Homo sapiens: one gene and its partners. The protein of the gene in region 3 interacts with the protein of the main gene of each other region in a pairwise test. Each region holds a gene or a part of one and is shown on either strand. Other genes may lie near its edges.

The links.
Region 1: the proteins of GAB2 (region 3) and RPSA interact in binary tests that used the Homo sapiens proteins (3 or more experiments, as listed by UniProt).
Region 2: the proteins of GAB2 (region 3) and RFFL interact in binary tests that used the Homo sapiens proteins (3 or more experiments, as listed by UniProt).
Region 4: the proteins of GAB2 (region 3) and ACP2 interact in binary tests that used the Homo sapiens proteins (3 or more experiments, as listed by UniProt).

Annotation. Positions count from the first base shown.
Region 1 is NC_000003.12:39,402,316-39,410,083, reverse strand, and holds the start of RPSA (small ribosomal subunit protein uS2), read right to left. Parts: upstream 3,365-7,768; 5' UTR 3,320-3,364; intron 2,464-3,319; 5' UTR 2,431-2,463; coding exon 2,298-2,430; intron 1,694-2,297; exon of another isoform or gene 1,545-1,693; intron 1,479-1,544; coding exon 1,360-1,478; coding exon of another isoform or gene 1,345-1,359; intron 1-1,344.
Region 2 is NC_000017.11:35,018,585-35,026,348, forward strand, and holds part of RFFL (E3 ubiquitin-protein ligase rififylin), read right to left. Parts: intron 3,198-7,764; coding exon 2,787-3,197; intron 1-2,786.
Region 3 is NC_000011.10:78,225,643-78,233,406, forward strand, and holds part of GAB2 (GRB2-associated-binding protein 2), read right to left. Parts: exon of another isoform or gene 6,723-7,764; intron 1,410-6,722; coding exon 823-1,409; intron 540-822; exon of another isoform or gene 1-539. UniProt on the Homo sapiens protein: Adapter protein which acts downstream of several membrane receptors including cytokine, antigen, hormone, cell matrix and growth factor receptors to regulate multiple signaling pathways.
Region 4 is NC_000011.10:47,245,589-47,253,621, forward strand, and holds the start of ACP2 (lysosomal acid phosphatase isoform 1 precursor), read right to left. Parts: upstream 3,216-8,033; 5' UTR 3,202-3,215; coding exon 3,088-3,201; exon of another isoform or gene 3,051-3,087; intron 3,041-3,050; exon of another isoform or gene 2,927-3,040; coding exon of another isoform or gene 2,897-2,926; intron 2,768-2,896; exon of another isoform or gene 2,712-2,767; intron 2,546-2,711; coding exon 2,450-2,545; intron 2,140-2,449; coding exon 2,053-2,139; intron 247-2,052; coding exon 94-246; intron 1-93. Other genes in the region: NR1H3 (oxysterols receptor LXR-alpha), read left to right, coding at 3,216-3,276.

The DNA of each region.
Region 1 (7,768 bases), on a different chromosome or scaffold from region 3:
TGGACAGTCTTGGCTCCCTGCTGCCTCAACCTCCTGTGTTCTAGCAATCTTCCCACCTTAGCCTCAGCTGAGACTACAGGCACGCCAACACCACACCCAGCTCGTTTTTGTTAATTTTGGTAGAGACGGAGTTTTGCCACGTTGCCCACCCTGGTCTCGAACTTCTGGGCTCAAGCAAGCCACCAGCCTCAGCCTCACAAAGTACCCCATATTACAAAAGCATGAGCCACCCATGACTGGCTTTTTTAAGAAACAGGATCTCACTCTGTGCCCCAGGCTTGGAGTGCAGTGGCAAAATCATAACTTACTGCAGCCCCCAGCTCCTGGACTTGAGGGATCTCCTGGCTCAGACTCCCAATTAACGGGAACTATGGGTGCATGCCGTCATGACTGGCTAAGATTCTTAAAAAATTTCTGTCCCAGTATTTCATTGTTTTAAGGTAAAAACTTTGACTATGGGAAAATGTGATAAGCCACTTTAATAGAATTTCTAGATATTTAGTGGCACAAGTCTACACAAAATGAAATTATAAAGTTCAACATACTGCCAGATGCCCAGCATGTATGTTGAAAAGGTCTTACAGGCTGGGCGCAGTGGCTTACGCCTGTAATCCCAACACTTTGGGAGGCCGAGGTGGGAGGATCACTTGAGATCAGGCGTTTAAGACCAGCCTGGCCAAATGGTAAAACCATGTCTCTACTAAAAATACAAAAATCAGTCAGGCATGGTGGCACATGCCTGTAATTCCAGCTACTCGGGAGGATGAGGCAGGAGAATCCCTTGAGCTTAGGAGGCAAAGGCTGCAATGAGCCGATATCACACCACTGCAGTCCAGGATGGACAACAGGCAACAGAGCGAGAGACTGTCTTGAAGGAAAAAAAAAAAAAAAAAAAAAAAGGAAGGTCATAGGTCATAAGGGCGATTTCTATGGCTCAGTCCAACTTAAGATCTCTTAACAGTGGAGTTTGAGTTTTCTATTTTCTTTTTTTTTTTTTTTGAGACAGAGTCTCGGCTCTGTCACCCAGGCTGGAGTACAGTGGCGCATCTCAGCTCACTGCAAGCTCCGCCCACCGGGTTCACGCCATTCTCCACTTTGGCCTCCTGAGTAGCTGGGACTACAGGCACCCGCCCCCACGCCCAACTAATTTTTTGTATTTTTAGTAGAGATGGGGCTTCACCGTGGTGTGGATCTCCTGACCTCGTAATACGCCGGACTCCACCTCCCAAAGTGCTGGGATTACAGGCGTAGCCACCGCGCCCGGCCTGAGTTATTTCTGTTTTCTTATGTCTTTCTATGTCTCACAATGTCTGTAAGCTTTATTTCTATAATATAAAAACTAACCACTGTTCCACAAACCTGGCCAGTATTCCTGGAGGATATAACACTGACATCAGCAGGGTTTTCAATGGCAACAATTGCACGAGCTGCCAGCAGAAGCTTCTCCCAGGTCCTCTTGAGATTTATGATATAGATGCCTAAGTGAGGGCAGAAGGATTTGTAACACTTGACCTGGCTGTGCAAACATTCTTCTCAAGTTTACTCTATGTGGCAGCGAGTACTACCAAACTCCAGTCATAGAGGCAAGCTCTACTGGTGTTAGCGAAAATCCTGCCATTGATATAGCACACTTCCGACACTCAGAAGTTCATGAGCCAAGACTGGCCTCCACCCTGAGCTTTAATAGTGTGCAGCCTAGATTCAGTTGGCTAAATCCATCTTTCCTTTCTCTTTCCCTGTACTTATTCCATCATTGGTTCTTAATAATCCACTTCCTGGCTTTCTGCCACTCTTTCCCTTTTATAATCTGCACTGATGCAAGATTCATCCTAAAACTCCTTTACAGCATGTCACTCCCAAGTCCTTGGTAGCTTTATCTCTAAAATAAGTAAGTGCCTTAGCCAACTTAATGCCTTCCATCCTCTGGTTCTTCCAAACCATATTGTTCATTCCCACCTCTTACCCCACTTTCCACTCAAAATTCAGTTCAATAGCCTGTGTAAGTACCTATGAAGTTGAAGGCACTATGCGAGCTATTAGAAACTCAGCCAATGAACTTTCTCATGTTCATGACCCAACCCAAGTCCCGTAACTCAGACAACTGACATATTCCTCCCCTGGAGCAGAAATCTTTTCTCTCAATAACAAGAACATTTATTTAAAGTATGTTTTCAACGTAGGGGTCTGGCTTCATTTAAGGAAGATAGAAAGAAATTACCCAGAACTAACCACGAGAATAGCAAGCTCAAAATTTGTACTTACAGCTGGAGTAACAAAAAATTAAAGCAATGACTAACCATCACTTTTCCTTTTATAGATGTACTGTTCCATCTGGAAGTCAAGATTGGTGCCACCTAAGTGGGTTCCTGCTGCAAGGAACTTAAGGACATCCTCCTCCTTCATTTGCAGGACATCAAGGGCTCCGGACATTGTGAAAATTTCCCTTTAAGTTACGACGGGAATCTGAAATAAGAGAGCAACCTATTTCTTTTCATTCCATTGAGTTAAGTAGGGCACACCCTTAAAAGCAACCAAAAACTCCATCTGCTATAGTGTCAGGCATTGAGCTTACAGTGTAGTGAAGGGTAAACAGAAAGTTAACCCATACATGTCGTGTATTACGGAACAGCGCACATCTTACTGAGGAAATAGTGTGGACGGCAGAGTAACCGAGTAATAAAACTACACGAAATTAGCGAATGGAAATTCAACACTTCTCAAGATAGGAATTAAGGAAAAGTTGTGGATGCGCCAAGTTAACAACTAGATACAAAAGAGCAGCCATGTTTGGAATATGCAAACTAAAGGCAAAAAAGGCATGAATTGTTTTCAGACATTTTCAAGCAGATTGTAGGCGGATGCTTTGGAATTACTTCGCTGTGCTGTCACCACTTGTTTGTCTAAAAACCCGAGAACCTTAACTCCTGACCCGCACGGCGCGAAGGGAAAACCCGACCAGCCCAAGTAGCTGGTGTAAATCAGCGCCTGGGCCTAGACTCACCGCCGTGTGGGACTCCGAAGGGATAGCAACACAGGATGTTAGCCCGCTTTCTGCACTCCCGCCCACCCGCGGCCTGGTCCGAACCCCAGCTCGGAGCCTCCGCTGGAGGGCGGCCTCCACCCGCTCCCGGGGCACTCTGGGAACCCGCCAGCCCGAGCCTGGCCACGTGCGGGCCGCAGGCCTAAGGTGGGGCGCGCCGGGCGGGAGACAGATCCAGTCTGACCGGCTTTCATCACTAGTCTTCTCACCCTTCATTTGAGCAGGAAAAGCTCATTTTTCTAGCCCTGGAAGGCGCCAGGGACGCTACACGGAACTCACCCAGAACAACGCCGTATGGACCCCTCTGCAGGTAGCACGGAAAAGACAGGCGGCAGGAAATGACGTCCTTATGTACTCCGTTGTCAGCCAATGGCAAAGAAAGTCGAGCGGAAGAAGGGCGGAGCCGGAGAAGAACGCTGCCGGGACTGGGCTTTTTCTTCAGGAAGGCGGGCTTGCGCCGCAGGAGCGGGCCTCTGGGCTGTAGCCGGTAGCGGCATCCTGGTCGGATCTGGGGCGCTTGTGACTTTGGGGTTTCTAGTGCCACAGCGACGCCCTGTGCATAATTCCTGTCCAGAGCGCGGAACTCAAGTTAGTCAGCCAGGCGGGGCGTTCTTACCCAGCCCTTGTACCTGCGAATATGAGCGGCTTTCTAGCCTAAGCTGCCATTTTGTTACCTGAAAAGTAGGAAGGTTTGTTCGACACAACAAATTGTTAGGTAAACAAAAACTTGAAGATTTATTTTATTTTATTTTCCTGGAGAACAGTTTAACAGGACGTAATTCAGATTTAAATGTTCACTTAAGGGAAGTTTTCTCTGAAAAAGTTAAAAAAGATAAGATTGAACTGATCGTATGCGTTATGTCTATCTCATGTATCTATCCATCTATCACCTGGGGGAAGTTTCCCTGAAAAAGTTAAAAAGGACAAGATTGAACAGATGGTATGGATTATATCTATCTTTTTTTTTTTTTTTTTTTTGGTAGAAGAAAAATTTTGCAATATCCATCAGTAGGAGATAAGTTTGCCGGGCGCGGTGGCTTGTGCCTGTAATCCCAGCACTTTGGGAGGCCGAGGTGGGTGGATTGCCTGAGCTCAGAAGTTCAAGACTAGCCTGGGAAACATGGGGAGACCCCCATCTCCACAAAAAATACAAAAATTAACCAATCATGATGGTGCGTCCCTGTAGTCTCAGCTACTCAGGAGGCTGAGGCAGGAGGATAGCTTGAGCCTAGAGGTCAAGTCTGCAGTGAATGTGATTGCACCGCTGCACTCCAGCCTGGGCAATAGAGCGAAATTCTGTCTCCAAAAAACAAACAAAAAAATAGGAGTTAATTGAAGGGGCGCGGTGGCTGTAATCCCAGCACTTTCGGAGGCTGACGCGGGCGGATCCCTTGAGGCCAGGAGTTCAAGAGACCAGCCTGGCCAACATGGCGAAACCCGGTATCTACTAAAAATTCAAAAATTAGCCAGGCATGCCTGTAATCCCAGCTACTGGGGAGGCTGAGGCGGGAGAATTGCTTGAACCCAGGAGGCAGAGGTTGTAGTGAGTGGAGATTGCGCCACTTGCACTCCAGCCTGGGCGACAGAGTAAGACTCCGTCAAAAAAAAAAAAAGTGCAGGTTCCTCTCTGGGGCCTGCTGAGTCAATCTGATTTCTGAGCCCACCCTAAAATGAACTCGTAGACCCTTATGGCCACTCTTCCAAAGGACAGCACATCCAGGTTCTCCTGCAAGTGGCTCTGCAGCTCCACTGAAGCCAGTATGATTTTCTGAGGAGCTTGGAAACCCTTGGACCCTAGCACAGGTCACCCCCAGGCTGCTCTGCTTCATCACCCACCAAGGCTGAAGCACCTGGGGCTTGAGGGACAAATTCAGAGAAGTCACAGCCCCTTGCGGCAAATGCAAATGCCTCCCGCTTCTACGCTTTGTTATGGGAAGAGGAGGCATTCAGTTTGTTGGCAGAAACTCAGGCCACAAGCCTCCTCAGAGGCCCCTGAGTCCCAAAACAATGCCCTGCCCCCTGCACCCAAATGTACTCCTGCTTAACCCTTCACGTGTGGATTGGGATTGCTGAGTAGTGAGTGCAGCTCTGCAGGGTTCCTCCAGGGGCCTCAGCCTTGGCATTAGGATCACCTGGGCAGCTTTTAAAATCTTACACCTGGGCTGAATATATCAGAATCTCTGAGTGAGACCCAAGCATCAGTAGCTTTTAAAGCTCTTGTAGGGGCTTCCCCTCCACCCTCTGAGTGTTCACTGCTAAAATGAACTGACAATAGACAAATTAACAGGAGAAGAAACATACACTTTTTTTTTTTGAGACGGAGTTTTGCTCTTGTTGCCCAGGCTGGAGTGCAGTGGCTCAATCTCGGCTCAACGAAACCTCCACCTCTCGGGTTCAAGCAATTCTCCTGCCTCAGCCTCTCGAGTAGCTGGGATTATAGGCATGCGCCACCACACCCGGCTAATTTTGTATTTTTAGTAGAAATGGGGTTGCTCCATGTTGGTCAGGCTGGACTTGAACTCCTGACCTCAGGTTATCTGCCCACCTCGGCCTCCCAAAGTGCTGGGATTACAGGCGTGAGCCACCACACCAGGCCAAACATACACATTTATTAATGTGCTTATGCACAGGAGCCACACGAAATATAAGACTCAAAGAAGGGCCAGATGGCTGAAGCTTAAATAGCATCTACTTCACAGGGAAGGGAGATGGGATGGTAAACAATTTAGAGGGCTAGTAAGTGATTTTTGGAAGGATAGGAATGAGTTCAAAGAACAGAAAATTTGCCTGAGACAAAGTTCCTGTGAGCTCTGGGGGAAACAGCAGCAAAGGGTAAGGGGAGGAACTTCACTGTGACCAAAGGTTGCCTTATTAGGCAAATAATGTCTCCTGGAAAATCTCTCAAAAGCTGCCCTCAGAAAAATAGATGAAGAGTCTGTCTGGGCATGGTGATGACTTTTAGTCTTTTCTCTTCCCAGTGGTTAATATTTCCTGGTTACCTGATGAGATTCTTAGGGAGGAAGTTTTAAGACTATTGTATTTTATTCTGGAGGAACCTACCTTATTCAGATAAGGGAACTTCAGACAAAGCCCCTCCGGATGCTTTGGGAAAAGGGGATTGAGAGATGGGGTTAGGGGAAGGTCAGAAAGAAACCTTGGTTCTGACGCTATTTCAGAAGCCTTTCAATTTTCTTTAATTCAAAGCATGCAGCATGCCAAAGTGCCTTATTCAGTCAGGGGTATCATTTTCTGAGCCCCAACATTTTCCAGATGATTCCAATGTGCAGCCATATTGAGTTTAAAAACCACGATCCTAGACTCTAGAGTATTTCTTCTTTATTTTATGTAATTTTTTTTTTTTTGAGACAGTCTCATTCTGTCACCCAGGCTGGAGTGCAGTAGTGTGATCTCAGCTCACTGCAACCTCTGCTCCCAGGCTCAAGCAATTCTCCAGCTTCAGCCTCCCGAGTAGCTGGGACTACAGGCCCGCACCACCACATCTGGCCAGTTTTTGTATTTTTGGTAGAGACAGGGTTTTGCTTTGTCGGCCAGGCTGGTCTTGAACTCCTTACCTCAAGTGATCAGCCCGCCTCGGCCTCCCGAAGTGCTAGGATTACAGGCATGAGCCACTGCACCCGGCCTAGGGTATTTCCTGACTACCTAAGCTAATGGCTCCCAGGAGCAGAGAAGAACTTAGAAGCTAGTTCTACCTAGAGGCTGTTGCATTGAGGCACCTTTTTTTGGAGGGAGTGGTGACAAAAGCTGAAATTTAAGACACAGTGGATTGTTAAATTTTTTTTTCTTCTTCTTCTTTTTTTTGTTTTTTTTTTTGAGACAGAGTTGCTGTCTCCCAGGCTGGAGTGCAGTGGTGCAATTGCAACTCACTGCAACCTCTGCCTCCCAGATTCAAGCAATTCTTGTGCCTCAGCTACCCGAATAGCTGGGACTACAGGTGCACACCACTACATCTGGCTGATTTTTTGTAATTTTAGTAGAGACAGGGCTTTGCCATGTTGGCCAGGATGGTCTTGAACTCCTGACCTCAAGTGATCTCACTGGCCTTGGCCTCCCAAAGTGCTGGGATTATAGGTGTGACCCACTGTGCCCTGCTGCTTGTTAAATGTATTTATTTATTTTTTGAGACAGAGTCTCCCTCTGGTGTGCAATGGCATGATCTCAGCTCACTGCAACCTCTGCCTCCCAGGTTCAAACGATTCTCCTGCCTTGGCCTCCCAAGTAACTGGGATTACAGGCGCGTGCCACCATGCCCAGCTAATTTTTGTATTTTTAGTAGAGATAGGTTTTCACCATGTTGGTCAGGCTAGTCTCGAACTCCTGACCTTGTGATCTGCCCGCCTCAGCCTCCCGAAGGGCTGGGATTATAGGCATAAGCCACCGTGCCCAGCCTGGTTGTTACATTTAATATCAACAATAAGTTAGAAGGCCAGGCGTGATGACACACACCTGTAATCCCAGCACTTTGGGAGGCTGAGGTGGGCAGATCCCTTGAGCCCAGGAGTTCGAGACTAGCCTGGGCAACATGGCGAAACCCTGTCTCTACTAAAAATACAAAAATATTAGCTGGGTGTGGTAATGCATGCCTGTAGTCCCAGCTACTTGGGAGGCTGAGGTGGGAGGATTGCTTGAGCCTGGGAGGTCGAGGCTGCAGTGAGCTGAGAGCAGTGAGCTGAGATTGCCAGTGTACTCCAGCCTGTGGAATAGAGTGAG
Region 2 (7,764 bases), on a different chromosome or scaffold from region 3:
ACAATCTGGGAAACCAAAGACACCCACCGACCCCAGCCACTCACCCCACATTAGGATTCATAATATGGAGCTAATCAAGAAGAGGCAACCAACTGCAATGGAAATGAAAAGCAGAAGTAACAAAATGCCAAATCAAGGCAAGATCAAATGCATAGTACACATGTATGGGGATGGATCCAAATCAATGTCTTCATCAACAACGTTTTCTCTTAGCTTACTGTAGATCCTCACTGGTCTCTCAGGTAGTGTTACCTTGGAATTACCCTGGAATCCTTCAGAGCCTAACCTGTTCCTAAGTAGCTATCTTTCAGATGTCCTGTTTCCTAGAAAGAGAAACGACCTCATGCTGCAAAGCATGCTCTTGTCTTTCCAGTTTGCCCACTGGCTAAATAAAAATCCAAAACTAGTACCTGTCCACAGTTGTGCTTATTGTATATACTTCCTTGCCTAGCAACTATTGATTGCTAGGGCACTAAAGGTGAAAGAGAGAACTCTGGTTGAGCAAGTATTATAAGGAAATTTACATTCTAGGTGCAGCTCACTTATGAACTTGTCAGACAGTACTGCGTAAGTTACTTAATTCTTCCATGCCTGTTTTTCCTGCTTGCAAAGTGCAGCTCTCACCAGAACAGGGGATGTAAGCAGACACTAAGGTCTCTTGAAAATCTCAGAGGAAAAGTACCCACTTAGATCTTGTATGTAGGGTGACCTTTAGGTGCAATCTGGAAATTTCTGGTTAATGACAGGAAGCTTATCATCTTTCATTGAAAAATCTACCTGAAAAGTTTGCTTGGTTTTTTGTTTTTGTTTTCTGAGACAGGATCTCACTCTGTTGCCCAGGCTGGAGTGTGGTGGCATGATCATGGTTCACTGCAGCCTCGACCTCCCAGGCTTAAATGATCCTCCCACCTCAGCCTCTTGAGTAGCTACAGGCACCCACCACCACGCCCAGCTAATTTTTGTATTTTTTGTAGAGACAGGTTTTTGCCATGTTGCCAGGCTAGTCTCAAATGCCTGGGCTCAAATGATCCGCCTGCCTCAGCCTCCCAAAGTGCTGGGATTACCAGGCATGAACCACCACGCCCAGCCAAGGTTCTTTACAGAAAAAGAATTCCTCAAGTTCTTCTCCTGGCTCCTTATACATAGAGTGGAAAAAAAAAAAACACAAGCAAAGGGAAGAATATATAGCAGGAGTTTAAATCTGTCTAGCAGACCAAGAGTCAGAGCTTAGGAAAGAATTAAAGTCCAGCTGCGGAGAAAAACATGTTCAGGCCAAAAAGGGAGTTAAATGATTTTACTGCAGTTAAATTATGCTATCACATTGGCCTTTATGCCTCAGTGGTTGTCAAGAGCTGAATCAGGGGGCCCAGTCCTGGCAAAGGAGGTGATCATAAACAAGTGGCAGCAGCCATCCACATCATGTGTGGGAACCAACAGCACTAGCACTATACCAGCTCTAAGTAACTCAGAGCTCTTTTAGACATGGTATCACGCATTCAGGTCTCTCAACATCCTGGCAAGATCAAAAGTGGTCTGTGATTACTAACCTCATTTCATTGTTGTAGGCTCAACATTTGCCCAAGGGGATCAAGAAGTCAGTGACAAAAGTGGATGTGGAAATTGGATCTTGTAGTTCCTAATTCCCCCATATTGCCCAAGCCCTATAGATCAAGGGTCCCCAACCCCTGGGCCACAGACTGGTACTGGTCCATGGCTTGTTGGGAACCCGGATGCACAGCAGGAGGTGAGTGGCTGGCAAGTAAGCATTACTGCCTGAGCTTTGCCTCCTGTCAGATCAGCGGTGGCATTAGATTCTCATAGGAATGTGAACTCTGTTGTGAACTGCGCATGCGAGGGATCTAGGATGCATGCTCCTTATGAAAATCTAACTAATGCCTGATGATCTGGGTAGAATAGTTTCATCCCAAAACCAACGCACCCCAGTCTGTGGAAAAATTGTCTTCCACAAAACGAGTCCTTGGTGCCAAAAAGGTTAGGGGCCGCTGCTATAAATAACAGAGTCACTTAAGGCACTTATGCAACATCATCACTTCTTATACAACAATTATGTCCACTGGCCTCACTCTAATCCAGTAGTTAGTTGGTCTACCTGTCTACCTTCCCTCTTCTGGGGGCTTTTTGAGGACAGAGACAGTTTATTACTCATTTCTATACTCCCCAGACCTGGGTCATGATTCAGTTGATGTGCTGCTCTTAGCTTACCACTTCCAAGCCCCCCAGGATAATGAAGAAGCAGCATGCAAGTACAGCGTGCCAACTACTCCTGCTTCCAGCCAGTGACTGGTAAGAGAAGCAGTGTCTTTGTCTGTTTCCCCACCCTCCCTTGCCTCCATATAGCCCTTTGCTTTCCTATATTCCTTGTGATGGTTACTAAGGAACTAAGTTTCCAATCCAGCCAATGAAGACTGCAACAAAGGAGTTAAGTTGAAAGACAAATTGGAACAGAACTAAATTTGATGGCTTAATGGTTACTTTTCTCAAAATATTTCTGGAATGATGAACTTTAAAAAATGTCTAACTAGGATATGTGTGTATTAAAAACAAAAAACAAACAAAAAAATTGGTACTGTGCATATCACCTCTGAAGAAAGCCAAAACATGAGTCTGATACCCAGAAAACACTTGGTGCACCAGTAGTCAGAAAGGCTTCACATAATCAAGACACTTAGCCTTATACCCCATTCTCACAACAAAGGCAGGAGAGGAAAATGAAAATGAGCCCTCAAACTGGCACAGACTGGCAGAGACTACAAATGGGCCCTTACCTGCTGATTCTCCTGAACCTGGGCTGGGGGAACAGAGGTGGCTTGTGCAGATGAAGAGGGGAGGTTGGGTGAGGTAGGTGGAACCATGCTGGAGTGAGGCTGGGTCAGGAAGGCCTGCTGCTCAGGAAAGTCTGGGGACAAGGTGGAGGCACGAGTCCTGTCCTCCTGGGAGATTACAGGCTGCTGGCCAAGGACCAAGAGCACCAGCTCTTCTTTCTCCCGGCACATTTCGGTAGAGATGTCATGGAGGCTGAGATAGTCCCTCAAGTCCTTCACCTTCATCTTCATGAGCTCCTCTCGCTGAAAGGCTGTAGCTCGAAACCGTTGGCAGAGAAGGCAGAGGCGGGGCCCATTCCCTACTTGGCTCGAACAGGTCATGCAAAAATTTTTCTTACAGTCCAAGCAGGTCTGCTGCTTAGAGCAAAAGACACAGGAAACCATGTCAGATTGAGAGAACAAGACAGAGAGTGCGATGGGAGCTTCAGAGCTGCCAAGCCCAGCAGGATCTCCTCCAGTCACTCTTACTTTTACTAAGCTCTCTCATATATCTAAGGGTGCAAGCCACTTTCAGATTTTAGATTAAAAGCCACTCGGGTGGAAGACCTCCACTATGTATTGTGTATATCCATGTACAGGACACTTCACATTTATTATTTAATTTGAGGCTTACTTTATTTACTCCTGAAGCACCTGAGGTATTAATTAAGACTACCAGCATAAGAATCAAAAAGCTCTGCATTTTTATTAAGCCTCCCTCCCTTATTTCTTGCAGTATCACCTTGGGTGTGTAATTTAGCCTCTCTGGTGCTCAGTTTCCACATCTGTAAAATGGGGGTGATAACAGTATCTACCTCATGGGGTTGTTGTGAAGATTAAGAGAGAACCCATTTAGCATATCTAACACAAAATGAGTCCTCAACAAGTGTAAGCTGTTTTATTATAGCTAGGAAATATTACCTAACGGTGACAGCCAGGATTCAAATCCTAAACTGTAATTATTTCTGCATGAAGGTTATGGTGGTGGTGGTTGTTACAATTAATATTAATTTATTGAGGTGCTTCTATATGCTAGCTTGTCATTTAATTCTCAAAGCGACATTGCAAAGTAGGTATTAGTGTTCTTCCCTGATTCACAGACAAAGCAACCGAGGCTTAGGGAGATCAACTGTTGTATTCAAGGTCAGGCAATAAACAGGAGAGCGGGTATTCACACTCAAGGTCTGTTGGAGGCTAATGCCCATGATCACATTCTTTCCACCAGGCCATACTGCATAGCTCAGTTCCATTCAAGTACAGAGCAGTTCTGAGTCAAGGGCCTGGCTTCCATCTCCAAATTCCCCACCCACTGCTCCATCGACACAGGCTCCCCACTCCAGGAAGGCCCACTCAGAGTGCTGGGAACCCAGTGGTGCTTACAAGCATATCCAAGACAAATATTTAGACAGCAACGGGAGGCTGTCTGGACATCAGGGTACTCTCGTTCCTGAAAGCACAGAGTGTCTCAGTTAGGCAACAAGAGCGCCTGATGGGCAAGCTGGTACTGCCTGGCAGCAGCTAGTCTGGCAGTCGCTGACAACACAGGAAGGCTTACTCAGCCCACAGGAAGCAATCCTCGGCCTCTCACCCCACAGGCTGAGTGAGCACAGTGACATCCGGCTGAGCTCTGTTCTGGCCAAGAGCATGTCACATCCCCAACAAGAGAGGTAATTCCTGAGCACACTGGGATTGGCCTGGAGGGCACCCTCATTAATCCTTTAAAGAAGTTAAAAACTTTTCATCCTGTGTTGACTTAAGTAGTAACTTAAATATTTCTGGTCCATCTTTTCGAAATATAGAAAGATATTCAAGCTAAAAAAGAAAGCTCAAGAGACAAGATTCTCATAGTCAAGATCACAGACACTCTGGGCTGAAGTAAATGTCTGCATAGTTAAGATAGTTATATAAGTTTTGTCTAAGTATCATTCACATAGTAAAGGGAAAAGGAAATAATATTTACCACCCAGTTTTGGCTATTAAGACTTAGAAGGCATTGCAAAGGGACATATATCAAGCTCCCTAATTCTCCATACAGTTATAACCAAACAATACTGTTCAGAGATGGACTTAAAAGGATGCATGGCTGCACTAGCATTGTAACGGTTCTGGGACCAGTAGCCATGCAGGCAGAAAATGGATGTTTTCAGGTATTTGGGGTTCATTCACATCTAAAGCTTTTCTATTGGGAAATGAAGTCTGTTTAGGATGACTGAGACTGAAACAAAGAGGCTTCAATGCCATAAACCTGTGGGCCTGACATGGAATATTACTTAAGTCGATGCAGTCTGACAAGACCTAGCTTGACACAATTATAAAGCCTGCGTTGCTCAATCAGCCAGATCCAAACAACTCTCTATTCTTTCTTCAAATGTGTGTGGCTTGCTGGATGCAAGATCAGAATGCAGACAACAACCTAGCTTCTATGCACCCGCTGGCTCACAGGGAACTCTGAAATAAGCTGGCATCTGAAACACACCCTACAGGAACAGGATAGGGCTTGAGGCTAAAACCCCAGTTTGCAGTGGCAGAAGAAAACAAGAAGAAAGGAAAAAAGGGCTGTCAACAAATGCAGGCAGAATGAGCAAAGGACACACTTATGTATAAATTCTGCCGAATGGTTCAAAACAACTCAGTAACCAGGTAGCATGAAAGATGAATTAGTGGAGGCAACCAACATGCCTGCAGAAATGCCCAGGGTGTACTGAGATATCCAGCATCACAGAACTGGCCGTGGCGCCTCAGGCCGACACCACCCTTCAAGGATGCCGTGTGCAGGGTTCTGCTGGCTCCCGTTTGCCAACTGCCCTTCCCTTGCTCCTACTCCCTCCCACCCTATTCCCTGGAATATGGGAAGTATTACATGAGAGAATGTATATAAAACCTTAGCACAAAGTGGATGCTCCAGAAAAGGTAACACGGTTACCTTTTTCTTTCCCCTTACCAGCACCTAAGACCCAGTCCTCTCTTAACACTCTGAGATCTGAATATCACTTCCATGGCTCCAAGCATAACCTCATCCTCCAACTGGTCCAACTAAAGAGGCTGGGTGCCAGACTCCCTCCAAAACCGTCAGGGTCGCTGCTAAACCACAGGGAGGTATTACCAATAGAGATGGGGTATTTGGCTTGTGGCAAAAGTACAGCCTGCCATTTCTCTTTAGGACTGAAAACTCAGGGAATGCAAGGGCCACATCTTACTTATATTCTGTCTATAAAGTCCTGAATGTTATCTGTGCTTTGCACCCAATAAGCATTCAGAAAGTACTGACCATAATGAAGAATAAGGAAAAGAAAAAGATAGTAGGATCCATGGAATCATTTCAATTCAAGCACTTCTAGAAAAAGACATTTTGAAAGCCCCTGGGTGTTAAATGCCAAACCCTTAAGATAAGAATGCTGATCCACTTAAGCATGAAATTACAAATGAAAAATTCTCATAGATGAAAACACCCTTAATATTCACAAAATTCACTGTAAATTGCACAAAATTAACTCATACTTTTGTAGCAAGAAAATATTGTAGCAAGAAAATATTGTACCAATAACCATCTTTTACCATCCAAACTGGAATTTTTCTTCCCCTCCAGAAGCTCTTGTTACACACACTTTTCTTTTGTCACATCGTATGGTGTGCACTGTCCTCACCTCCCTGTCCAACTGCAAGCTCCCCGTTAAGCAGCAATGGCCTTCTTCATCTCTGCCTCCCTAGCCCAGGCAATTCCTGATACACAGTAGATATTCAGTAATTCATTTTCCAATAAGTAAGAAAAAAAGCACCTTATTTTAATCATTGCCATGCTTTTCTAGGCACCCAGGCCTGTAACTGTCATCTTCTACTCGACATGCTGAATGTCTTCTGGGAGGGGCTTTGGAATCAAGGACCTGGGTTTGAATCCCGGCTCTGTCATTTAATAACTATGTGATCTTGAGCACTACTGAAGTCAAGGGAAAAGAATGAGTATTTTAATATCTCTCATGCTATTTGTCAGGAATTTAACACATTCAATGTTCTTCTTAAATTTTAAACCCTAAGCCCTAGTTTCTCATATGTAAAATGGGATTTGGGAGATTCTAAAACCTATATCATAGCTATTGTGAGGATTAAATGAAATAAAAAAATTTAAATTCCTTAAACAGTCCTTTGCACATAGCAGATGGTTTAAAAGTATGATTTCCTCTCAAATTTCCCATGATCACCATTTTAACATCATATCCTATCACTTATTCTGAGCTGCAAACCTCTCATTCTGCAGAAAAATGCAGAATGCAGGAGTTCTTTATCCAGGTGAGGGTTTACCTTCTGCCTAGTCATGCTTGATCACAGATAACTCACTGCCTCTGGAAGAGGGAGGGTGCACACCTAGACACCATTATCTAGCCAGTAATTTTTTTTCCAGCTCATTCATTTGGGAAGCATGGCTCCCAAGCATTTCAAATGAAATCTGCTACAGTAAATAAGCTCCAGTCTTTGTTATGGTCTTCATGTACCTGAGGCATCCTTAACGTTGCTTTTGATAAAAAGAACAAGTTAATCTGCAATCAGGCCTTTGTGATGGTGGCTAATGATGGAAATAACATCAAGTGCCTACGACATTCTAAGCATTGTGCTAGGCACCTTTCATGGCTTTCTTGTCTCACTTTATTCCCACAACCCTGAAAGATGAGGACTACAATCATCCCCATTTTATAACAGGGAAACTGAATCTCAAGAGAGGTTAGATCATATAGCTAGTAGGTAGCAACGCTGATAACTGAATTTAGGTCTACTGACTCCAAATCTATGCTGACATGCTTTGCTTTTGCTTTTACTCAGTTAGTTCTTCTTGAACATTTTTGTGAAAGGGACAGCTCTGGGTCACCAGCATCACACAGGGAAAGGAAAGGTTGCAGGCATTCAGAGGGGTCAGTGGCGCTTGCCCATGGTCCATAGGCTGCAGTGGCAG
Region 3 (7,764 bases):
ACTGCTCAAATTGTCGATGGATTGAAAGACGGCAAAGAGGTCTAAACTAGGAGCTGGGACTCTAGGGTCTGAGTCTCATCTCTGGCACAATGACTCTGCAACTCTATTTAAGTCTCTTAACTGTCATTGGCCTCATGTGAGATGGAGACAAGGAGGTTTTGTCCCACCAACCTCTCTGCCTGGCTTAAACAACAGGATGGACAAGAAAAGGCTTTGCAAACCATAAAGCAAGATGCAAAATGAAAGGAATTAATATTGTTCTATTTTTTCATCATACAGAGGAGGTTACATGCAGAGTTGGAATACTCTCAGTGGAAAACAAGTAACAATAGAATTTAGGTACTTCAAATAAAAGTTTTGACTTCAACCAAAGAGATTCAAGTATGATTTAGAAAATATTAAGACCTCGTTTTGCTTTAGCAGTCTGTTAGTCCACACAGGTTTCACTCCAGTTTGGACTGATCTTCTGAATTTATTTTTTAAATCTTTGATTTGATTTACAAATGAATAAAATACAATGATTTGGGCTTCTAAACCCATAATATGTTATACTGTGGTTAATCAAGAATGTCCTATTCTCCATTAGTAGAACATTAACTTCTCTGGGGCTAGCTCTGTTAGACAACTACTACTAACAGCCTCCAGTGCTGGAGGACCAACTGGTAAGGGATCTGGGTAGAAGACACCTATGTTTTTGAGTATCAGTGACCTAGGTGGTTCGTAAGTTCCCCTCGGCCATGGATGACCAAGGACCATCAAACTATTGAGAACCCCTGTGTTACCTCCTCCTCCCTCTGAGTCTCAGCTAGGACTTATACTGACCTCGGTGAAGTCGGCTGTTGTCCATTGCAGGGAGGGTGTTGCGTCTGGGGATGGTGGCAGCGACAGATCTGCTATTTTCACTGATTGGCGGTCTCTGCTGAGGACTGCCCCATCGAGGTGTTTCTGCCTGACTTGGCTTGGGGGGGCGGGGTGGGGGAGCTATGGCTGAGTCCCCAGGAGTGGCCACTGTCATGGCATTGTGGTTTTTGTCCAGAGTGAATGTCCTAGGGATCTGGTAGGCTGAGAGTGGGGTGGCCGGAACATCCATATTGTCTACCAGGAGGTCCCCGAACTCCCTGCACAGGGTGTTGCTGGGCGTCTTGAAGGTGTACACATCCTCATTATCTGTCTCGGAGCCTGTGAGGCTGCCCTTGGTGTGGCCATGGGAGGCCAGGCTGCGGGGGAGGTCGTAGGTACTGTCTCTGAATTCTGTATTGTGCCGGCTCGGCTTGGGAAGGCTATAGAAGCCATGGACTTGACCACTGATCCCGTTGACACAGTGTCCATTGCCCTGGGCAAGTTTTTGTACAGCTGTGTCACTCCTCATGAGAAAAGAGGCTCTGGTGCCCTGAGAGAAGCTGGCACTCCTAAAAGAGAAAGAAGGGAAAGGGCAGGAGGGTGAGACAATTACTAGCTGTGTGACCTTGAGGCAAAGCACTTTCTCTTTCTATACTTTGGTTTAGGCATCTGTAAAATGGTGACTAAAAGCATATTTTGAAGGTTGTTCAGACTCTAGTATATGAATGTTTAAACAATGTTAGACTTCATCCGTCCCCCATCTCCAAATGGCAGTTAATAGCAGGGGTTATAACCCCCACTCCCTGAACAAGTATCAATAAGCCAGATGGATTGCCTATTTGTTCACTGTTTTAAGTACCGCAGAATATGCACATTCGAACACAAATGTTGTGAGACAGTGGAAAGAACCTTTAAGTTGATGACAGGAAACAGCAAACAAGTCATTTTACCTCTCTGAGTCTATTCTGCCACTGTGAAACTAGCCCATGGGTATTGATGTTGTAAGTTGAAAAGAATTATTTGGGTCAGGTGCAGTGTGCAGTGGCTCATGACTGTAATCCCTGCACTTTGGGAGGCTGAGGTGGGAGGTTCACTTGAGGCCAGGAGTTCAAGACCAGCCTGGGAACACAATAAGACTCCATTGCCACCAAAAAAAAAAAAAAAAGAACTAGCTGGGCAGGGTGCTGCACACCTGTAGTCCTAGCTTCTGGTGAGGCTAAGGGAGGAGGATCGCTTGAACCCAGAAGTTCGAAGTTAGAGTGAGCTATGATCGCACCACTGCATTCCAGTCTAGTAAACAGAATGAGACCCTGTTTCAAAAAAACACACGCCCCAACACAAACAAACAACAAACTATTCAAACGTAAGCTCTAGATTTATTTTCTACCATGATTTATGGTTGGTTAAGAGGCATTTTGAGGGGAAAGATCTCTTTCCAGAGACCTAGAAATCTATATGAAGAATGGTTTCCTGTTTGGGAACTATATATAGAAAAAGTTTTGATTAGTACATTTTTAAATTTAGGTTTTGGGCAATAAGGCAAGCAGTAAAAAGAGAAGAGAAACAAGAGGGGAGACTTGTGTTAGGTTCCAGTACTGCTACTGATACGTGCTGTGTGTATCACCAAGCCTCCTCTCTCAGGTGGGACCTAGTACGTCACAATGATTTCTAAGGGCCCATCTGGCCCCGATGCTCTACAAGCCCTTCGTTTCACAAGAGTGGTTTTCAAACTAGATTCCAGGTTCTCTGTAAGTGCTTTGGGAAATTGGAGGGTGAGGTTCTGAGCAAGCAGGGATTTAGGTCTGCTTCTTTAGCTTGTGTATGATTCTTCATAGGATTTCACTTGGGGAAAAAAAGAATCAATCCTTTGTAGCAGGGATTCTAAGCCTTTTGGAGGCTATAGGAGTTTTTAAGATTCTGGTCAAAAGCTCTTGGAGTGTCTCATCAGAAAAGGCAAATCTCGTATACATATAAACTTGTTGGGGCTGTAATACATAATAGCCCTCTGAGGCCAATCCCTGGACCTTTTGCCTTATAGAAGCTCTCTCAGCTCCTGAGGAGTTTGTTATTTACAGATGTGGCCACCAGATGGTGTTAGAAAATAGGGGCCAGAGCTTAGAAAGAGGAAACAGGTGTGTAAAGCCAGGCTTCCTCTCATGTAAACTGTACCCACCATGATGGCTAGGAATTCCAGGTCAGTCTCCAAACCTTCACTGATGCTCCTCCTTGGGCCTCTGCACTCCTCCTCCCTTTCTGTTCCATTCCAGACACATAACCAAGCCAACAGCCATGGGCTTGGATGATTGAACATCTAGGCTTTAGATAATGTAGTGCTTAGGGAAGAGGACGGGGGTGGCGGGGGGAGCGAATGGTAGACATAAGGTGTTAATGTTGTATGCATTTTTTTGGTGCCTTTCATTTTGCTTTTTTTGGAATTTCCAACTCTCTGTTGGATGCTCCCATCTGGATTTGTTCATTTTACATTTACTGATGTCCTAATTTCCATCTGGGCCAGGCAAAAGGGATACAGAGATGCCACCTGCCCAGTGAGGGGTGGTCTGGGAATGTCACAGTAGGGCAGGAGATGACATGGATGCAAATCATTACAGTCAAGTAGGGGTGAGTATGTAGCTGCTGACAGTTGGTATCAGCCCTTGCTGGGGGTGGTGGTAGACAATGTCAGGGAAGCCTCCTTCAGAGATGTTTTATCTTGAGTGAGTCTGGAAGGATGAGCCACAACTGGCCAGGCAGAAGGCAGGAGAAGGGAAATGGTGTTCTAGTTGAAGGCTCAAAGATGTAGAACACAACCTGGCAAGTTCTAGAAACTCGAAGCTGCTCAGGCTGCAGCAAGCACATTAGAAGGCAGGGCTGAGAGAAGACACTGGAGGCCAGGCCAGGACTAAAGGGAACGGGGAGCCTCTGAAGGATTTCAAGGTGGGGATGGGGTTGCAAGAGCATCACAGGCACCCTGCAATAACCTTCAACATACTCAAGAATGAACTCATCATCTTCCTCTGGAACTCTTCTCCTCCTGCCTCTCTTATTTTGGGAATGGCAACAGTTACTCAAGCCAGAAACCTGGGAGTCACCCACATTATGATTTCTGCCCAGGGCCTCTCTGATCCTTCCATCCTACTAATATTTACTTTCCTAACTTCCCAGTGTAAACATTTTCAACACCGCCTCAATGCTTCAGGATTAAGCCCAAACTCCTAGGTTTATCCCAACTCATCTCACCAATCTTTTCTCTTTAGTTCCCTTTTCCACTCTAGGATCCAAACCAAACTTTGCAGTGTTCCCTGTGTGCCCCAGTTAGTCAAGCATTGGGCTTTGCTGCATTGTTGGGCTGTGTCTGGAAGGCTTCTTACCTCAATCTGGCAAGTTCCTACTCCATTTATCCTTCAAACTCATCTCAGAAGACACATTTTTTAAGGCCATTCTTACATCCTCTACCTCTAAGCATTGCTTAACTTAATCACTTGCTTAACTTTGTTCTTGGAGCAGGTAGCAAGTGTTACCTATATTAGGCACCATTACTACTTATCTCTGCCAACAGACTGTGATTTCCTTGAGGAAAGAAACTGTGTCTTACTCATTTTTCTCTCCTTAGCACCTAGGTTAATGCTTGTTGCATTATAAATAATGAATAAACGTTTGTTGTAAGTAAGCAAATGAATAAACAAACGTATGTTGCTGCTATCCCTTTTCCTGGGCTTGGCCCAAACCTTCTGATCAGCAGATCAAAGCCCTTCCTCTGTAGAACCCACTAGCTTACGTTCCAACTTCCCTCTACCCCGGCATCCTCCTGTCTCGCTCACAGAACTACTCACTCATCCCTAAACATGTCCTGTGTAGTCTAAACTTCAGCCCTGGTCTTGCATTACTCACCTCCCTGTGGAACGCTTCCTTGATACATCAACACCTTACACAAAGTCCACAAGAAGCCTTTTCACTCTACAAAGGTATTACAGGTCCCTAATTCTCCTTTTTATGGTAATCATTCCTTCCTCTGTGCTACCACAGCACTCTGTGCTTCCATCGCAACACTCACCTTATTCTGCCTTATGTCAGTTATTCAGGTCTGTGTCTTTCCACTTCTACCAGACCATGTGCTCCTAGAAGGCAGAGGGCCATATCCTGTACCCTGGCATAGTGCCAGGCATATGATAGATAATAGTGACACATGTTGAGGGAGACTGATTATCACCTCAGTAACCAAGTAAGAGGAGTTGAACAAGGGACTCTTGCCCAAAGTTACATACTCAGAGGGCAGGGAATTTGTTCTAGCAGCCAGGTCTCTGGGTGCCCCCACTGCGCAAACCATGCTAAAATGTGGTCCCTTTGGGCAATAATCTAGATGGGGAATTCCAAATACTCAGCAGTCTTATGGCCTTTAGTATTTTCATGTAAACCTTAACTGAGGCCTGTGTCACTGTGATGACCTGAGTTGCTTTTGTGGGATGGATAATCCACCTGGAAGTGGTGGATTTGGAGAGAGGCTTCTCTTCCAGGGCTGGGCTTACAGAAGCCTTATAAAATAGGCAAGATACTATGCCATACATATCACATGTGATCTCATTTTAAATCCTCCTAATAGTTCTGAGACACACCTCTTACTTTCACATTATCAGATGAGGAAAACAGTAAATGGCAGAGTTGGAGCAGGAAGATACTCAAACACAAGCACGTATGGGAGCTCCCCAGAATCAAAAAGAAGTTTGAGAGAAGATATTCCCTCAAGCCAGCAGTGCCAAGTGCCTTCCCTTTCCATTCCTGGCCAATGGCTCTTCCAGAGGCTATAGAGGCTATTGCCACCATACAGTCTCTCCCTTGGTGCGCGCGCGCGCGTGTGTGGTGTGTGTGTGTGTGTGTGTGTGTGTGTGTGTGTCGGAGTCTCATTCTGTCTCCCAGGCTGGAGTGCAGTGATGCAATCTTGGCTCACTGCAACCTCCGCCTCCTGGGTTCAAAGCGATTCTCCTGCCTCAGCACCCTGAGTAGCTGTGATTACAGGAGCGTACCACTGCACCTGGCTAATTTTTGTATATTTAGTAGAGACGGGGTTTCATCATATCGGCCATGCTGGTCTCGAACTCCTGACCTCGTGGTCTGCCCGCCTCAGCCTCCCAAAGTGCTGGGATTACAGGCGTGAGCCACTGTGCCCGGCCTTCCCTTGGCTTTTAAAAATGGTTTTCTAGTTTTTCTAGCCACTTCATTTTGTACTTGTTCTTCCACACATTTTCATATAATTTTATATACCATACTATATGATGATTTTGCTTTTTTCTATCCCACTGGACTCCAAGAACCCTAATGATGAAGGACTCACTTTGATTTTCAATGAGTATGTTCCCATTTAAGGGTGACTTAATATAAAATGCTTGTAAGTAGATTAAACACCATTTAGAGTTCTGTAACTGTCACTGGCCATGTTTAAGAGGTCATTTGAACTATCCTCTTGCATTTGACCCATTCCAAATGGATCCTTCCTGTGAAAGAAGAAAACTCTGTGTCACAAATCTTTATGAGATGAGGCAATCTTTGTATCTCAAACCCTTCTGGCTGCAGTTCTGAGCCAATTTTGGCAGGACTCTGGTTACAGAGCAAAGCTGTATATGTGAAACTAAAAGTTGTATATTTTGCCTTTGGTCAGTCAATCAAAGCCTCTGGTGAATGAGTCAGGGAAGACTTAGAAAAGATTAATGATGGGTAAGCTCTCCACTGACATTTCTAATTTTACCATTTACCCACCATCTTTCTATAGACTACTGCTGCAGGGTCAGTGATTCTGGAATCTCACCAATGAAATTTCACTCCTAGTAACCCTCACCAGAATTATGGCTTTTCAGGGCATGTGACTCACATCAATGTATCATCTGTTACAGGTTTAACAGCCTTCTTGAAATAAGAAGACAGACACTGGCTAGAATCTGGAATGAGGCCCCAAAGGCTGGAGGACAAAAATAAGTCCAGTGAAACCAACTTGTCTTCAAAGAGAAAAAGAACTCTATTTGTCTTGACTCTGCCAGTTCAAAACTCTTTCCGTTGGCAATAGATATTATTCTGAATAGTTACTTATTTTAGCTCAGTGGAAGACCTGCATTTTGAGAAATGAAGTTATTTTAGCAAGAATACATATTATCTAGTACTTGAAGGAAGACTAGTGGCTATTATTGCAGTAAAAGTGATGATAAATACATAATTCACAGTTTTATTTCTAAGGTGCTTAATTTACTGTATCTTTACAATCAGGTTCCCACATAAATGAAAAAAGAGATAGATAGAAGGCTGGTATTAGTAGCCTCAGTAATCCAATCAGACACAGTTATGTCTAGTCTATGCGAGGCAGGATGAATGGGCTGATTCACTTTATACCCCCTACTCAAAAATAATCTTACAGGATTACTTTGGAGATCATATGAGGTACCTAATGTAAAAGTGCTTTGTAAACTTTAAAGCATCATTTCTTTCTTCCAGAGCACCTAGTATATAATGTGAATGTTAGAGGAAACACAGGATTAAAGTCTATTCATATACTTACCAATACCTGGCACTGTTAAGTTTTTTTTTTTTTTTTGGTGACAAGGTCTGGCTCTATTGCCCAGGCTGGAATGCAGTGACGTGATCTCAGCTCACTGCAACCTCCGCCTCCTGGGCTCAAGCCATCCTCCCACCTCAGTCTTCTGAGTAGCTGGGGCTACAGGCATGTGCCACCATGCCTGGCTAATTGTTTTTGGTAGAGATGGGGTGTCGCCATGTTGCCCGGGCTGGTCTCAAACTTGTGAGCTGAAGCAATCCGCCTGTCTTGGTCTCCCAAAGTGCTGGGATTATAGGCATGAGCCACTGCGTCTGGCCTGTTAGCCATTTTTATTTTAGCCCTTCCAGCAGAGGTAAAGCAGAATCTCACTGAGATTTTAATTTGCATTT
Region 4 (8,033 bases), about 31 Mb from region 3:
GGAAACAGGCAGCGGGAAAAGGAGCCTGGCATCAGCAGGCCTACGGCCAGAGCTGTCCCCTCACCACCCCAGGGAAGGGCTGGCCACTCTTACCCTGTCCTCAGTGATGGGCACAGTGTGCACAGGAATAGGCTGCCACGAGATGTTCGGGTTGAAGCGCTGCATCCCGTTGGGAGGGAAGAGTCCAGCCAGGTTGGCCTCAGCACTCATGAGAGTCCGGTCAAAGTCTGTGCTTCGCACATAAACCTGCAGCGATAGCAACACAAGTCGTGTGTGTGTGTGTGTGTGTGTGTGTGTTGGGGAAGTTTTGGTCACCCTGAAGTGGAGCCTTGTATGTATGTGTGTGTGTGTGGTGGGAAGTTTTGGTCACCCCAAAGTGGAGCCCCAGAGGAGAACCTGTTCCTGATGGTCACCCAGCAAACTAAACCTACCATACATCTGGCCCTCACCCTCCTCTGGCCTCTGGCCTTCCCCATCCCCCAAACACTCCACTGGGGGTTGTCACCACTCTGTGAAGAACTCTTGTGGGAATGGCCTTAGTTGAAATGCCCCTTCCAGTCAAAAGTGCTGAGTCAATCAGTAAGGCTCTCTGGTCTGTCTGGTTTCATAACAACACCTCTCTCCCTGTCTAGATCAGGGTCCTTGGGGCAGAAACTGGCTCCAGTGACGACCCTTAGAGACCAGGGAGAAAAAAATAAGATAAAGGGCTGGGCCTGGTGGCTCACACCTATAATCCTAGCACTTTGGGAGGCCAATGCAGGAGGATCGCTTGAGGCCAGGAGCTCGAGACCAGCCTGGGCAACATAGTGAGACCCTGTCTCTACAAAAAAAAATTTTTTAATTACCCAAGTGTGGCGGGCACTTGTAGTCCCAGCTACTTGGGATGCTGAGGCAGGAGGATCACTTGAGCCCAGGAGTTTGAGGCTGCAGTGAGCTATGACTGAGGCATGTGCTACAGTTTGGGTGACAGAGTGAGACCCCTTTAAAATATATGTATATATTTTGGGCCGGGCACGGTGGCTCATGCCTGTAATCCCAGCACTTTAGGAGGCCGAGGCAGGCGGATCAGCTGAGGTCAGGAGTTCAAGACCAGCCTGGCCAACATGATGAAATCCTGTCTCTACTAAAAATACAAAAATTAGCCAGGCATGGTGGCACACACCTGTAATCCCAGCTACTTGGGAGGCTGAGACAGGAGAATCGCTTGAACCTAGGAGGTGGAGGTTGCAGTGAGCCAAGACCATGTCACTGCACTCCAGCCTGAGCAACACAGCAAGACTCTGTCTCAAAAAAAAAAATTTTTTTTGAAGAGCTTATTCAGAGATAGTGGCTCATGAAAAGGGAGGAGGAAACTGGGGAAGGACAAGCTCAGGACAGAGCTGGGCCTTAAGAGAACAATAACAATGTCTATGGATTCTTGATACGGCTGAGGCTGACAGTGGTAATCAGAGGAACAGCTTCCCCCATTCCTGGGGTGGGGCGAAGACTCAAGGAGCAGGCACACTCACCAGTCCTCCCTGATGTGCCCTAGGAATATAGCACGACCTGGCGCAGCAGACAGGGCTCAAAAACCTCATCTTGATCAAGAAAAGACAAGCCCTCTCTACGCATGTCTTCCCCGCTGTCTTTCATCTTGGCCCTGTCTGGTTTATCATTAGATACCCCCACAACATTCTAAGCTCCATGAAGACAGAGATCATATCTGTATGGTGCACAACTGAATGCAAAGTGCTAGCACAGTCCTTGGCCTTTAATAGGTACTCAATGTCTTGGATGGAAAGCCTGTGATTTCACAGTCAGAAACCACTTTGCCAGGCCCGCCCTTAAGTCCGAATTTGGATGCTTAATCAAATTTGCCTCATCCCAGCCAAGCAGGGGCAACTCAGCTCCTAGGGCTTTGTTCCAGACAGCTCTCAGATGTCTTTTCCTGTAGTTGTGACCAAAAATACAAGAAGGAGGCCAAAGTGCCCAGCCTCAGCCTTAGGCTCCCTGAGGGCAAAAGATGAGGGCAGCATACCTTGTTCCCCTTGCCTCTGGAGCTCCCAACCTTACCTCTTGCCGGTGATAAGAGGTGTTTAGGAAGCCGTGATAGCGCTGCCGCAGGGCCTGGCCCAGTTCCCAGTGCTGTAGCATCCCCTCCTGTGGGCAAACCCAAGGGTTAAGAGGGTCTAGAGGGAAGGGGTGGCTTCAAGCCCCATGGGGTTTAGGCCCTGTTGCTTTCCAGGTTCACGCTTTGCTGGAGTCAATTAATCTGATCCCAGAAGTCTTTCATTAAGTGGCCAGTCATGCACAGCAATATCATGGGCACAGAGATTAAGGTTATGAAATCTGGTCAAAGTCAGCACCCATATGGGAAAAGGCAGTTTAGTAGGACCCCAAGTTTTGTAGACTGCTCTAGACGTCGCTCATTCTGCAGCTCATCCTGAGGAAAGGCTGGCTTCTGACCCACCTTGGTTAACTGACCAAACCCCTGGGGCCATTCTTCTTCCTGATAGGGGTCCTTGGGATATGTCTTCACTGGTGAACGGTCTCCATGGCGGTACAGCTGAGAGAATAAAATGGTTTGCCTATAGGTCAGAAGCATCCCCTTGATAGGGACCCAGAGCCTACCTTTTGCCCCATGTTAGGGAAGGAAGTCTCATTCCCTCTGGGAAGCCTACTGGCTGCAAAAGACCCCAGCTAGGAGTCAGTCACTTCTTCCAGATTCCAGAGATTCTAACTTAGCTAAGCAATGCTACTGGAGACCATAGGCAAAGCCAAGGTACAGGTAGGAAGGGAAAAGAGAAGTGAAAGCAACGTATGTGGTGGGGACAACTGGGGAAAAAAGATAACCAAAGGCTTCTTTAGGGATGAGTCTTAACCATTCAACCACTTCCCTGTCTCAAGGCAGACTCACCCCGACGTATTCGGTCATCCTGACTCCCATAAGCCAGGGCTCCAGGTCAATCCTGAATCCAGCCTCCCAACTACCCAGGCCAGTCGTCCCCTCCTAAACCAGCTGTTCCTTCCCGAGATCCTCGACCTCCACCAGCTGGCCTTTGCCCTTTTAGCTTCAGGGAAGTCTTTGGTGAGCCCATCTCTCATTACCAAGGTAACGAAGCGCAGACTCCGGGCCCGGGTGGGCGGCATCACCACCAGGTTCACGCCGAGAAGGAGCTGGAGGAGAGCCGCCCGGCTCCAGCCGGACCGCTTGCCCGCCATCACCGTTGTAATCTATGCAGCAAACAAGCTGGAACCCGCTGGGTGGCACCTGCAAGCAGCCGCCCGGACGCACCCGTAAGGACACACGCCGGAAGTGCGTTCGCCGCCATCTTACTTAGGGACCTGCTGGGGTGCGGGGAAAAGGCGCAGTCTCGGTGGGATTGCGTGCAGGAGGGTCGTGGTCTGGCTGTGGCGGAGGAGCATAAGAAGGTAACGCGACCTGGCGCGGCAGACAGGGCTCGAAGACCTCATCTTGATTAAGAAGGCCACAAATTCGCGTTTGCCTCTGCTCGGAGAAATCCCTTACCAAGGTGGCACTTGCAGTGGGCGGGACCATGTCTGGAGAACCAGCGTCCCCTCCAGGCTTGACCCCATAGCTAGATCGGGTGCAGAATTGAGGCGAGGGATGGGAAAGTAGAGGTCGCTTCTCTCCACGCCCCTGCCTTTGTGGGGAGATTGAGCCCTGGCCCTGTTCTCCAGGAGATGTTTTGCTTGGGGTGCAGGACACAGTATGTAAACAACCCTTTGGACTCCGTGTGTCCTTGAGGTTGCCCCAGTCTGGCCTACCGTTCCTGCCCTGCACAAAGCTTCAGTAGCCCTCTCACTTTCCCTTCCAGTCCTTTCCCTGTCCTCCCTCCCCTCCACTTCCAAGTTTTAGTTAATTAGAGTCAAGACGTCATGTCATGCCTCTTCCCAAAGGAGTTGGGTTGCACAGGATGTTCAGACTTTACAAACCCAAAGCACTGAATCCCTGGGGGAGGAATTTCAGACCAGTGGGGAGGTATTTTGAGGTAAGGGACAGGCGCATATCATAAAGTGGGAGTAGGTGGGGTTTCCACAGAATCAATGGCCCTCTTGGCATTGACCATTAGGATTCAGGTGCAGCCAGTTTGGCCTCAGGACTTTGTGACTCCTGTGACGGTTGCAGGTCAGATCATAGGTCCTGGGGATGCTTTGATTCAGATCTGCCTACTGGAAGCAAATCTCCTCAGATCTTTGGGAAACAAAACTGATCAGGCTTGGCCTGGGCGCCGTGGCTCACCTGTAATACCAGCACTTTGAGAGGCCGAAGCAGGCAGATCACCTGAGGTCAGGAGTTCGAGACCAGCCTGGCCAACGTGGCGAAACCCCGTCTCTACTAAAAATACAAAAAAAAAAAAATTAGCCGGGTGCAGTGGCGTGCTCCTGTAATCCCAGCTACTCTGGAGGCTGAGGCAGGAGAATCGCTTGAACTCGGAAAGCGGAGGTTGCAGTGAGCTGAGATCACGCCACTGCACTCCAGCCTGCGCGACAGAGTGAGACTGTCTCAAAACAACAACAACAAAAACCTGATTAGGCTTGGTGTGGTGGCTCACGTTTCTAATCCCAGCACTTTGGGAGGCCAGGGTGGGAAGATTGCTTGAGCCCAGGAGTTGGAGACCAGCCTGAGCAGCTTAGGAAGATCTCCTCTCTACAAAAAAAAGTTTAAAAATTAGCTGGGTGTGGTGGCACACACCTGTGGTCCTAGCTCCTCGGGAGGCTGAGGTGGGAGGATCACCTTCAGCCCAGGAGGTTGAGGCTGCAGTGAGCCATGATGGTGCAACTGCACTCCAGTCTAGATGACAGAGCAAGACTGTGTCTCAAAAAGAAGAAAAGAAAAAAAAAGATCAGGATTATCTGTCTTTATTTTGTCCTAGGACTCCAGATTCAATTATTTATATATACTTCAGGATTTAAACTTTGCTTCCAGAGTTGTCATGGAGGAGGCCAAGAAGCAAATAGAGTAAGAGCCAAAGCCTGGGTAGCCAAACAGTTCTTAACCTTCTTATTTAATCACAAGCCCCTTTATGAATCACATGAAAATTTTGCACCTCTCCTCCAGAAAAATGTTCACACATATAAACACACACATGGAATTTTGCATATAATCCCAAATGGTTCACAAAGACCATTTATTACAGGTTTCATAAATCAGCATCTCTGAATACCTGATTTAACCTAGTCCTCTTACTTTACAGCTTAGGAAACAAACCTAAAGAGAGGAAGTGACTTGCCCAAATTCACAGTTTGGGCATGGGCACAGTTTGAGAATGGATTAAAAGTCAAGTTTTGGCCGGGTGCGTGCTCACGCCTGTAATCCCGGCACTTTGGGAGGCCGAGGCGGGTGGATCACGAGGTCAGGAGATCAAGACCATCCTGGCTAACATGGTGAAACCCCATCTCTACTAAAAATACAAAAAGTTAGCCGGGTGTGGTGGCAGGTGCCGGTAGTCCCAGCTACTCAGGAGGCTGAGGCAGGAGAATGTCGTGAACCCAGCAGGCGGAGCTTGCAGTGAGCGGAGATCGTGCCACTGCACCCCAGCCTGGGCGACAGAGCAAGACTCCGTCTCAAAAAAAAAAAGTCAGGTTTTGTGATTTTCAGTTAAATAGTCTATAATGGGCTGCTTCTTGCAGGCTACTCAAACTGCATTACTAAACTGTAATTGGTGATCCCGAAATCCTTTCAATAAAGAGGTATCTGTCAAAGGAAACCTTTTCAAATTAGTTGGACTAAACGGGACCTAGGCCGGACATGGCTCACACCTGTAATCCCAGCACTTTGGGAGGACGAGGCGGGTGGATCACCTGAGGTCAGCAGTTCAAGACCAGCCTGGCCACCATGGTGAAACCCCATCTCTACTAAAAATACAAAAATTAGCCAGTCGTGGTGGCGTGTGCCTGTAATCCCAGCTACCGGGGAGGCTGAGACAGGAGAATCACTTGAACCCAGGATACAGAGGCTGCCGTGAGCCGAGATTGTGCCACTTCACTCCAGCCTGGGCAACAGAGCGAGACTCTGTCTCAAAAAAAAAAATAAAATAAAGAGGGCTTGGGTAATTGGCAAAATGCTGCATATTAGTGGTAGTGGGAGGCAGTTGAGTGTTTTGTTTTAATGGGCCTCTTACTCCTTGCAAACTAGCCAGACCATTGTACTTTCAGAGTGTAAATCTTTGGCTCACCAAATTTCAGCTATCTCTCAAATTCAGCTTTTGCTTTTCTTCCCACTTGCTCAAATATGTCTATATTCTTTGTGCATGCAAGTATCCCACGTAGGAGGGATTGATGAAGCAGATACTATTTCAGTTTTTATAGGGAGAAACTATTCCAGGAAGGGTGGGGATTACAGCGCAAGTAGATAGTAGAGCCTGAAGCTGAGCCCTAGTTTCTTCACCCCTTTGCCTTCAGCTTTTGCATTTTCTGCCAGATGATTCTGTGGTTCTTACACTTTGGTTCGTAACTACAGGTGCAAAAAAAAAAAAGAAAAAAAAAAAACACATGTAGATAGATGGATATGTGGGCCTATCCCAGATCAAATAAATCAGAATCTCTGAAGGTGAGGACAGGAACCACTACCATATTCTGTGTTGGCAGAAGCAAACCTAAATCCAGGTATGTTAGCCATTTTTTTTCCATCTGAAGAGGCAGTTTTTGTTTTGTTTTGTTGTTGTTGTTGTTGTTGTTGTTGTTTTTGAGATGGAGTTTTGCTCTTGTTGCCCAGGCTGGAGTGCAATGGCGTTATCTCGGCTCACAGCAACCTCCGCCTCCCGGGTTCAAGCGATTCTCCTGCCTCAGCCTCCCGAGTAGCTGGGATTACAGGCATGTGCCACCACGCCTGGCTAATTTTGTATTTTTAGTAGAGACAGCTTCTCCATGTTGGTCAGGCTGGTCTCGAACTCCCGACCTCAGGTGATCTGCCCATTTTGGCCTCCCAAAGTGCTGGGATTACAGGTGTGAGCCACCGCACCCACCCGGCTGTTTTTTTTGTTTGTTTTGTTTTGTTTTTGTGACAGAGTCTCCCACTGTCGCCCAGGCTGGAGTGCAGTGGCACAGTCTCGGCTCACTGCAAGCTTCACCTCCCAGGTTCACGCCATTCTCCTGCCTCAGCCTCTCGAGTAGCTGGGACTACAGGCACCTGCCACCACACCTGGCTAATTTTTTTGGCTTTTTTTTTTTGTATTTTTAGTAGAGACAGGGTTTCGCCGTGTTAGCCTGACCTAGTGATCCACCCACTCGGCCTCCCAAAGTGCTGGGATTACAGGCATGAGCTACTGCGCCCGGCCCCAGCCGGCAGTTTTATATAATGGAGTGTATTTGTGATTTTTGTTTGTTTGAGCTTGAGCTCAAACTTTTGAATCAGCTAAACTTGTATTCTTTTTTTTTTTTTTTTTTTGAGACAGTCTCCCTCTGTCACCCAGGCTGGAGTGCAGTGGTGCAATCATGGCTCACTGCAGCCTCGACCTCCTGGGCTCCAACAGTCCTCCTACCTCAGCCCCCCAAGTGGCTGGGACTACAGGCAGATGCCACCACGCCTGGCTAATTTTTGTGCGTGTGTGTGTTTTCTGTAAAGGTGAGGTTTCGCCATGTTGCCTAGGCTAGTCTCAAACTCCTGGACTCAAGCGATCTGCCCTTCTTGGCCTCCCAAAGTGCTAGGATTACAAGTGTGAGCCACCACACCCAGTCTTATACCTGTATTCAAATTTGATATTTGCCCCTTGCTAGTAACTATCTCCTAGAGTTTACTGTGAGAATAAATGAAATAATGCATGTAAAGATAAATGTATGTAGTAGGGATGAAATAAATGTCACATCTTTCCTTTCTGCCTTCTGTATCATCTCTGAACTCAGGTCTGGGAATCCAGGTTTCTGGATTATTCTCTATGTTGTGATTGGAAGGTTGGGCAGAAGTCACTTGAGTAGATACGCAGTGGTCTGCAAGATGATCCCTGCACTTTCCACCCTTCCAGAACGGTGAAGGAGGGAACAAGAAGCAGTTCTCCTGGTCCATCCCTGCAGACCTTACCCTGTGGCCTGCT